Homo sapiens: one gene and its partners. The protein of the gene in region 3 purifies or fractionates together with the protein of the main gene of each other region. This does not show direct contact. Each region holds a gene or a part of one and is shown on either strand. Other genes may lie near its edges. The genes, in order: ITGAV, TF and EDIL3.

What was found.
Region 1: the proteins of EDIL3 (region 3) and ITGAV purify together in Homo sapiens (co-immunoprecipitation; 2 studies listed by BioGRID and IntAct, with this or other methods). This does not show direct contact.
Region 2: the proteins of EDIL3 (region 3) and TF purify together in Homo sapiens (affinity purification with mass spectrometry; 2 studies listed by BioGRID and IntAct, with this or other methods). This does not show direct contact.

Annotation. Positions count from the first base shown.
Region 1 is NC_000002.12:186,635,053-186,638,707, reverse strand, and holds part of ITGAV (integrin alpha-V isoform 1 preproprotein), read right to left. Parts: intron 2,627-3,655; coding exon 2,501-2,626; intron 1,644-2,500; coding exon 1,599-1,643; intron 432-1,598; coding exon 388-431; intron 300-387; coding exon 243-299; intron 1-242.
Region 2 is NC_000003.12:133,749,356-133,753,010, reverse strand, and holds part of TF (serotransferrin isoform 1 precursor), read right to left. Parts: intron 1-3,655. UniProt on the Homo sapiens protein: Transferrins are iron binding transport proteins which can bind two Fe(3+) ions in association with the binding of an anion, usually bicarbonate.
Region 3 is NC_000005.10:83,940,798-83,944,452, reverse strand, and holds part of EDIL3 (EGF-like repeat and discoidin I-like domain-containing protein 3 isoform 1 precursor), read left to right. Parts: intron 1-884; coding exon 885-1,034; 3' UTR 1,035-3,655. UniProt on the Homo sapiens protein: Promotes adhesion of endothelial cells through interaction with the alpha-v/beta-3 integrin receptor. Inhibits formation of vascular-like structures. May be involved in regulation of vascular morphogenesis of remodeling in embryonic development.

The DNA of each region.
Region 1 (3,655 bases), on a different chromosome or scaffold from region 3:
AAAAATACAGAGTAAACCAATTTTTGTTTATATACTACACACACACACACACACACACACACACACACACACACACGCTCAAAAGAGAAATGATAATAGTTTGACCAAAATGGTAAGAGTTGGAAGAATTATCTATTTGATGAGATTATAGTTCATTTTTACAGTTTTATTTCGCAAATTTTCTCCAATGAGTACATACTGCTTTTATAGTGGGAGAGGACGATCATATTTTGGAAGCATACCTGCTCGCCAGTAAAATTGTATAAGGAGGACATGTTCTTCCCATCATAAATATAAACCTGTGAAGGAAAAATAGAAGTATGTGAAATCTGGTAAAATAGAAGATAACTTAGAGATTTTTTAAAAAATACCTTTTAACTGTCCTACCATTCCCAAAGTCCTTGCTGCTCTTGGAACTCCTGAAACAAAGTCTGAAACAAACAAACAAACAAATTATTCATTTTTTAGGACAACACTGGAAGTTGCAGACCAGAAGTGACTATGTCAGCAAGCTTTAAGTTTTACTACTTCAGTTCAAAACAAACAATCAATTTAGAAAAATTGGTACTCCGTAATAAATAGCCCAGCATTTTTAAACTATAAAATCAAAATTTACAAAATACAAATTCTGGAGGGCTCTCAAACATATGCAAATAAGCCCTCAAGTCATTTGTAATATTGTTAAACAAGAATAGACAAGATAAAGTAACCTAAGAATGAAGAAAAACTACATTTAGTTTAGTAGTACAGTAATGAAAAATAATACAGAGCAAACTGAAGTGGGGTAGAAGTGGCTGTGGCACAAAAATGTGATCAAAATCAGGTAAAGACTGTGATTCCTAAACGGAGCTCTGAAGGAAGATGGATGGACAATGAGAGGATGGGGTAATAACCGTACAGAGATGGCCCAGAAGGTAACAAAGGATGCCTAAAGAAAGAAGACACTAATTCTTCCTCCCAGAGGAATGAATTTGCTGAAGACAAGGAGGAAAATGCTAAGGAAATCACTAACAGTGTTGGGGGCTAAAAAGAAGCAGAAAGGAAAGGCACTGAAGCCAAGTGTAGCTGTCTCAATTTCAGCAGCCACTAGAGGAAGTTCAGCACAGACCTAGCCTGGACTCTCACCAGTGTGCTAACATCTTCCTCATTTCTTCTGTTATATTCCATAACAATGGTTTAAAATTGCTTAAAATTTTATTTTCTTTTCCTTTTTTTTTTTTTTTTTTGAGACAGGGTCTCGGCTCTGTCGCCCGGGCGGGAGTGCAGTGGCGCAATCACAACTCACAGCAGCCTCAACCTCCCTGGGCTCTGGAGATCCTCCCACCTCAGCCTCCTGAGAAGCTAGACACTGGTGTGCATCACCGCGCCCGGCTAATTTTTGTGTTTTTTCTAGAGGCAGGGTTTTGCCATGTTGTCCAGACTGTTCTTGAACTCCAGGGCTCAAGGGATCCACCCGCCTCAGCCTCCCAAAGTGCTGAGATTACAGGCTGCAGCCACAGCACCCAGCCACTCAAACTGCTTAAAATTTTCAATGCCACATGTTTCAAATACTTAATCTAATTTTTTTAAAGATTAGATATAGTTCAAGTACTTCATACCATCTATGCCATCACCATTGAAATCTCCGACAGCCACAGAATAACCTAAACAGGAAACCAAAGGGGAGAACCATCAGGACAAGGACGTTATCTTCAGCAGGCTTGCTGAGTAAGCATTCCTTGAAAATATTTTCAAGAAACTCCTTTACTTATGCAATATTTTGTCCCCTAGTCATAACAGATTCATATATATATGACATATGAATTTTAAATGAAACTGAGTTAAATACTCAAATAGTCTATTTTTATTACAAAACTACAATTGTCTTATTAACTTTACAAAGGAGTCTGTTAAAAACACCAAATTTACAACTCATCATAAAGAACAAATAAATTCTCTCAATCAGCAAGTACTATTTCTGTCATATATGACTTGTTTTAATATATCATAAAGAAATTGAAAGAGAGAACACATGTTAATAAGTCCTAAAGACCAAAACTTTTATTTAACATCATGAAGAAAACTTCAGGAGTTAGACTGTCTCCATTTGAATCTCTGAACAGCAAGTTACAAGCGAGTGACTTTGGGCAAGTTATTTTGCGTCTCAGTGCCTCAGTGTTTTCACCTACAAAATGAGAATAATACAGTATGCTTGACTTGTGAGGATTAAATGAGTGAATACAAACCAAGTCACCTTGAACAATGCCCAGAACACAGTAAGCATATCTTAAAGGCTAGCTATTATTATTATCACTGCACAAATAATCACTGTCTTCAATTTCAATTACTGAAACGTAACATAACCAAAGTACTCATTAACAATTTGAAATTGTATATTCTGTATGTTTCAAAAAATCCTAATCTATTTCACATAAAATATTTTTCTACTTAAAAGACCATACTCAGATATAAGATATATGTACCACAGTTCCAAAAATGAGTAAATTTTGGTTTTACCTACCCAAATAGCTGTCATCAAAAATAGCTTGTGCAGTCCGAGTTGCTAATTGGTTATTATACTTGATGCTGTAAACATTGGGGTCGTATTTAGATACGATTTCTGCCACTTGATCCGAAATAAGCTGACCTAAAAAAGGGTGTATATATAAAATAAATAACCTTCAAATGGAAACTTTATGATACAGATAATGTATGGTACCTGCATGAAGGAAAACAATATTAGATATTAGTACTTCTAATTATTAGCCGTACATAACTCTCCTTGATCATACTCAATTTGAAAATGGATATTCTTAACTTAAAATTATTTCTGTTTAAGCCAGTACTTAAAAGTAGTCTCTGCTAATAAAAATTTAAGAAAACAGGACTTGTCTTAAATCACTAGAAAGCAATGTTAAATACACGGAATAATAAAATCAAAGGCTATCACCCAACTAATCCATTAAAACATGAAAAATTTACTGAAACAATACTGTTACTTTTATAATCAGAATAATTGGTTCAATTGATATTTTTTAACTAGTAATTTAAACATCTTTAGGAAACAACCTGAATGGATGAGTTCACCTTTGTTCACAACCTTGTTATTAAGCAGACAAGAAATCTAGATGACTACACAAAAATCAGCCTGCCCTCCATGCCAAGAAAGGATAGCTGGTTTATCAAGTGTTGTCTCCACAATATGGACACAGTAATCTCTTATCATTTCTGCTGTTTTAGAAAGAAATGTGTAACAGCTAACATTTTCAGTCCTGTTCCCATCTGTTCAGTCACAGAGACTGGATCTACAGCACAGAAGCACTTTCTCTGTCCAGGTCACTACTTTATCATCTGGGCTTCAGCGGTACCAAGAACATATGAAATTCAATAAACATTTCCTGAATTGAAGAACAGAGGAAAATTCATTATTTCTTCTGAATAAAACATTATTCTTTTCTCCATTCTAACAACGACAATTCTGAGATCTGTGAAAAAATTCATTCTAACGTACTTATCCAGGGTGACATCTGCTGATTTTAATCTTATTAAAACAAAATACTATTTGCCAATTCACTGAGTCTGCTAGCTATATATTACAGACAACTTGTAATAAAATTCTAATAAATATAATATTAATAGTACCTCTCTGTCCTAATTTATTACTGTGTCCTAATTA
Region 2 (3,655 bases), on a different chromosome or scaffold from region 3:
TACTCAATGCTCTTCCTTCCTGTCCTGGGTCCATAAAACTGCATGACCCTTTTGCTGAGGGATTGGGCACTTTCTCTGGGTTTAGCTTCTTGGTGATACTATGTACTGAATGATCAAAAGCTTGATTATTATTTCCATTTTTGCTCATCTCTGGTATAATTGTCTACTCCAACACATGGGCAGCTCATCTCTCTTTCTCTCTCAGCTCCATTTTACAAGTGAGAAATATGAGGCACAGAAAGGTTAAGTCACTTCCCTGGGCCACATAGCCAGTAAGTCATGGAGCTGGGATTTCAGTGCAGACATTCCGGGTTTATTTCTTATCATTACACTGTTACTTCAGGTTATGTTCCTTTTTGACTTTGTGCTTCTGTAAGCCCTCATCTTTACATCAACAGGTCCCTTGAAATATTATAGCTGCCTTCTTACTAGATCTATAATTTATTTTCTTTTTATGTAAATCCTTAAAGTGAGCCCAACCATCTTTTATTTAGACACTTAAACACATAGTTTTACTCCTTTTTTGTTTTAAATGTCTTTAATCAAAATGATTTTTCCAGAAGCCCTTGCCAGTTCTCTATGAAGATTTCTTATTGATCAAATTACAAAGCAGGCCAGGTATAGTGGCTCATACCTTGTACTTCCAGCACTTTGGGAAGCCTAGGCAAGTGGATCACCTGAGGTTAGGAGTTCGAGACCAGCCTAGCCAATATGGTGAAACACTGTCTCTACCAAAACAAACAAACAAAAATTAGCTGGGCTTGGTGGCACATGCCTGTAATACCAGCCACTTGGGAAGCTGAGGCAGGAGAATCGCTTGAACCTGGGATGCAGAGGTTGCAGTGAGCCGAGATTGTACCACTGCACTCTAGCCTAGGTGACAGAGCAAGACTCTCAAAAAAAAAAAAAAAAATTACAAAGCAAAAGCTATAGTTCCATGAACTTTGTTGTGTTACAATCAAGTAATAAGACAATAGTATTTCTAAATGAAATAAAATATGTTGTAAGACAAACTATATCAGCAGTCTCGCTCTTGTCCCTCAGGCTTGAGTGCAATGGCTCAATCTCGGCTCACTGTAACCTCTGCCTCCAGGGTTCAAACGATTCTCCTGCCTCTGCCTCCCAAGTAGCTGGGATTAAGGCGCCTGCCATCACACCCGGCTAATTTTTGTATTTTTTTTAGTAGAGATGGGGTTTCACCATGTTGGCCAGGCTGGTCTCAAACTCCTGACCTCAGGTGATCCACCCGCCTCGGCCTCCCAAAGTGCTGGGATTACAGGCGTGAGCCACCGCACCCAGCCAATTTTAACCATTTTCAAGTGTACATTTTAGTGGCATTAAGTACATGCATTCACGTTGTTTTATAGCCATCACATCTATCCATCTCCAGAAACTGAAACTCTTTACACATTAAACAATTACCTCCTATTTCTCCCCCACTCCAGCCCCTGGTAGTCATTATGCTACTTTCTGTTTCTATAAATTTGACTATTCTAGATACTTCATAAAAGTGGAACTTTGGGAGGCCGAGACGGGCGGATCACGAGGTCAGGAGATCGAGACCATACTGGCTAACACGGTGAAACCCCGTCTCTACTAAAAATACAAAAATTAGCCGGGCATGGTGGCGCGCGCCTGTAGTCCCAGCTACACGGGAGGCTGAGGCAGGAGAATGGCGTGAACCCGGGAGGCGGAGCTTGCAGTGAGTCGAGATCGCGCCACTGCACTCCAGCCTGGGCGACAGAGCGAAACTCCGTCTCAAAAAAAAAAAAAAAAAAAAAGTGGAATCTTACAATATTTGTCCTTTTGTATCTAGCTTGCTTCACTTATGTTTTCAAGGTTCATCTCAGTGTAGCATATATCAGAGTTTCATTTATTTTTAAGGCTAAAAATATTTCATCATTTGTGTTTACCACATTTTATTTATCTATTCACTCATCAATGGATATTTGGGTTGTAAAACATATTTTTAATATACCACAATACAAAACAAAATTAACAGACATCATGGGCCTTTCTGTTCCACAACAACTAGACCTTATATATGAAACACACTTCGTGGTTTTGTTTAATCTGCAAACACCTTCCCTTCCCCAGTCCTCACATTGTTGAATAAAAATGAAGCAAACAGGGTGCAGCACACCAACATGGCACATGTGTACATATGTAACAAACCTGCATGTTGTGCACTTGTACCCTAGAACTTAAAGTATAATAAAATATATATATATTTTTTAAAAAATGAAGCAAACAAACGAGAGCTTTGCCCATTGCAGTGGGGTTGGGAGAGTGGTCAGGAACCTGGTCTTTCTTTGCCAAGACACCAAGAAATCACTGGTGCCTCGGGGGCTCAGGGAGCCAAAGAGCTAAGGCCTAAAACACAGCGTCCAGCCCTAGAGCTGCAGGGTTCCCAGGGGAACCTGCGCCAGCTGGGAGGGACAGGATTATAATCAAGCAAGCTCTCACAAGTCAAAATAACCAAACCCAGAAGAGGGAAAGCTACAGAGAGAAGGCTGGAGGGAAGCCAAGGGGAAGCCAGCAGAAAGACACGGAAAACCCCAGCGCGGGGATTGAGGGAAGCCAGGCTGCATCTGGATGTTTCTTCCACCTTTTCCCTTCGGCTAACCTACTGCTTGCTTTGTGCTGAGAACTGTAGAATTTCCCACACTTGACACATCTGTCCAAACCTCTGCACTAAGAGACCTGACCAGACTCTGGCATGGCTCCTAGCAGAACAAATCTGTGTCCCTAGGATGGCCCGGTTCCCCTTAAAGTGCTTGCCTGAGAAAACTCAGTGCTGCCAGGAAAATGTACCTGTTTCTTCTACTCAACACACAACTGATGATAGGCCCCTGACCTCCCTTTCCAAGAGAATTTACTAAAAAGGACTTAAAACTGTGAATATGTATCTCTTGAAACTCACAAGCATCTCTCTCAAGGACTGAGAGCCATTCCTTTGCAACACAATCATCAGGATGGATAGAGTGTCTGTCTCGCAGTCTCTGCGGGAGAATAGAGTCCTAATCGAGAGAACTGCCAGCTATCAGACACAGCTGGCCTCCTCACATTTACACTGACCAGCCCTTTCTACCTTTTTACTTCTCTGACTCTACAGAGCCCTGCGTTCTCCCCTCCCTCATTCTCCCTTTAAAATGCTCACATCACCACTGCACAAATCAGAATGGAGCCTAGCTCTTTCCCCCACTGTCAGCAGTTACTGAATGAAACCTATTGTCACTGCCTAAACTAATATCTGGCTGTGCTTATCTTTGACAGCTCCCATCACCCTGGCCTCCCACTAGCAACTTAAATAAGCCCACTCTGCTCTGCCTCAGGCCCTTTGCATATGCTCTTGTTTGCTGCCTGGTGTATTTTACACTGGAGCCCACCCAGGCTCAGTCCTTCATTACATCTCTCTCAGAGAGATGGTCTCTGACCACCCAGGACAAAGCAGGTTTTTCTGTGAGTCCCTGTCAGAACACTCTCCTTTTTCCCTCCATTGTACATCCCCACATTTTGGAATTAGTAGTTTACTTATTCGTGTGTTTTTCTGCTCTCCTGACTAGCCCATGAGCTCCCTGAGGGTAAGGACCAATGTGTTTAATTCACCACTGCAGCCCCATTGCCCAGCACAGGATCTGACATGTACAGATGG
Region 3 (3,655 bases):
TGGGGAAGAGCAAGTGGCCATAGTAATAGTAAAGCTCCAAAAAAAAAAAAAAAAAAGCATTTTTACAAAAGAAGAAAGAAGAATAGACGTGCAATGCAAAGGGTCAGGATATTATAAGTCATATTCATCCCAATAGTATTGTATGGATCCAGGAATTAATAGATGAAGCCAAAAAAGAAGAGAAAAACAGTTCAAAAACAGCATTGATTGTGTTGTCTCATTTGGAGATGGGCTAGTTTTATTCTCTATGTGAGAAGAAGTGGGCAAAAGGCACTGTGATAGAGGCCGTTAGTGCTCACCAGATAGCCTTGTGCTTCTCTCCAGTGCCCAGCCTCCTTTGCTGTTAGGCTGGAGTCATATAATTAGGTAAGGTGAAACAGATATATACAGAAGTGATATAAGCTGCTTCCATGCTTGTTCTCTTAAACACTCTGCACAGTCTGCTAACTCTCCCTCCCCTTGCCCCTTGTGAATGTGGAGGCCGCCTGCTCCAGATGATAGCTGTACTTTGCAAGCAGCTTGGATCTCTGAGTCACCCCGTGGAAGAGAGCATCTTCAGCAAGCTACATGACTAACGTCAGCCTGTGACATAAGCAAAAAATGAATACCTGTTGTATTTTTTTTAATTGAGAGAAACAAGTAGAGGAAAATGATAGACCTATGAATGTCTGCATTAAACAATAAAGGTTTAACTCTTTAAACATTAATTGACCATTTAATTTAAAATAATTATTATTAAAAAGAAGCTGCAATATATTTTGAAGAAAAGAAAATGAATAGTTATCAAATATCATGTTTGGGGAAAATGTTCCAAACAGGAACATAAAAATAATTTCAAAGAAAGAAGGCTGTGTGACTGACATTTTTCTGCTCTTCTTTATTAGGTTTTCCAGGGAAATTTTGACAATGACACTCACAGAAAAAATGTCATCGACCCTCCCATCTATGCACGACACATAAGAATCCTTCCTTGGTCCTGGTACGGGAGGATCACATTGCGGTCAGAGCTGCTGGGCTGCACAGAGGAGGAATGAGGGGAGGCTACATTTCACAACCCTCTTCCCTATTTCCCTAAAAGTATCTCCATGGAATGAACTGTGCAAAATCTGTAGGAAACTGAATGGTTTTTTTTTTTTTTTCATGAAAAAGTGCTCAAATTATGGTAGGCAACTAACGGTGTTTTTAAGGGGGTCTAAGCCTGCCTTTTCAATGATTTAATTTGATTTTATTTTATCCGTCAAATCTCTTAAGTAACAACACATTAAGTGTGAATTACTTTTCTCTCATTGTTTCCTGAATTATTCGCATTGGTAGAAATATATTAGGGAAAGAAAGTAGCCTTCTTTTTATAGCAAGAGTAAAAAAGTCTCAAAGTCATCAAATAAGAGCAAGAGTTGATAGAGCTTTTACAATCAATACTCACCTAATTCTGATAAAAGGAATACTGCAATGTTAGCAATAAGTTTTTTTCTTCTGTAATGACTCTACGTTATCCTGTTTCCCTGTGCCTACCAAACACTGTCAATGTTTATTACAAAATTTTAAAGAAGAATATGTAACATGCAGTACTGATATTATAATTCTCATTTTACTTTCATTATTTCTAATAAGAGATTATGTGACTTCTTTTTCTTTTAGTTCTATTCTACATTCTTAATATTGTATATTACCTGAATAATTCAATTTTTTTCTAATTGAATTTCCTATTAGTTGACTAAAAGAAGTGTCATGTTTACTCATATATGTAGAACATGACTGCCTATCAGTAGATTGATCTGTATTTAATATTCGTTAATTAAATCTGCAGTTTTATTTTTGAAGGAAGCCATAACTATTTAATTTCCAAATAATTGCTTCATAAAGAATCCCATACTCTCAGTTTGCACAAAAGAACAAAAAATATATATGTCTCTTTAAATTTAAATCTTCATTTAGATGGTAATTACATATCCTTATATTTACTTTAAAAAATCGGCTTATTTGTTTATTTTATAAAAAATTTAGCAAAGAAATATTAATATAGTGCTGCATAGTTTGGCCAAGCATACTCATCATTTCTTTGTTCAGCTCCACATTTCCTGTGAAACTAACATCTTATTGAGATTTGAAACTGGTGGTAGTTTCCCAGGAAGGCACAGGTGGAGTTATTTGTGAGAAGCAAAGTGTTTACTAATGACAAAGTAGTAAACCATTTTCAAGATGAAAACTGATTTCTATTTATTTTGCTTCAAAGGTCCTGAAAAAATAAGCAATTATCATAACAATTTGTTATTGATACTGGAGGTTTCATTGACATGTCTCTCAAATTAAAGCTCACACTGCCTCCATAAAAGTCTTCAACATCTAATTTATAAGCTTTACAAGTATTTATTTTATAAGGCTTAGACAGAATTATTGGAGTTTTAAATTAAGTGTATTGGAAAAGAAAGGATGGTATGTGTATGAAATGTTAAGATCCTACGCAACACTGCTATTTTTTTCCTTTAATATTTGTGCTGCATAACAAAAGCCACTAGACTGTTACTGTCTTGTCTGTCCATGTGTTAACAGCATTTCTTAATGATGTATATATGGAGTGGTCTTCAATCATAGTGAAGAATTTAAAGAGAAAGTCAATTGTATTGGCATTTTTAATAAGAACAAAATTAGTTCGTCTAAGGGGACTGGCTGGCCACATATTTGTTCCTTGCCCATATGCTTTCTACTTCTTGTTCTTATTATGAAATTATGAATTTGAAGCCTCTGAAATGGTGATCAGTTTTCAACATCTTTCAAAAACAAAATTACTATTTCCTCCATATTGCCTTTTTTAGATAACTTTAAAGTTAGGATTTTAAAATATTTGTAACTGGCTAAATTTTAAAGTCGTGACAAATAATTACTTAGGTTCAGAAATATACACACACTTACTCTTTAGCCAGTTTCTTTCAAGGTTTACTGTCCCATCAGATATCTAGCCATTTTCCTTTGCAAATTACATACCTTCTTAAGAGTGTATTTTTAAGATTATTACTTACGCTTTATGATGATATAGTTTTTCAAAATTATTTATAGCTTCATATGATGTTTTGTAATTTTTTCTATTGATACCTGTTTTAAAAATATTTTCCAAGGAAGTTGATTAAAATTATATTTGTTACCTTTTAGAAAAAGCATTGAAATGAGTTTCTCTTGCTTTTTCATTTTCCCTCTGCTTTATATGCTCTTCGCAATACATCATGTCCAACGGGATACCTATTGTTCTCATGACACCCAAAATTGATGAGAGCAAAGGGGTCGCACCATATGGAAATGTTGAAAACTATTGTAAAGTAGTATTATGAAGTAGCTTTTGTGTCATTCATGTCGATGACATGAAAGTGAAGTAAATTTATTCTATGTAAATTCACACTAAAACCAGTACAGTACCATAAGTAGAATACATGTAAGAATCACCTAGTCTTCACTATATTGAGTAAATATAACATGCTAATTTTACAATTAATGAAACTAAACTTTTAAACATCTCCATTATATCTACATCCTTTTGAAGGTATTTATCATAGTTGCCAATTTTAATTTTAGGATTGACTTTCTCTTTCTGAATGACTTCATAAAGTTTGGTGTGAATTTTGAAGACTTGGGTTACTAATGATTGTATCTTTGCTAGTCAACA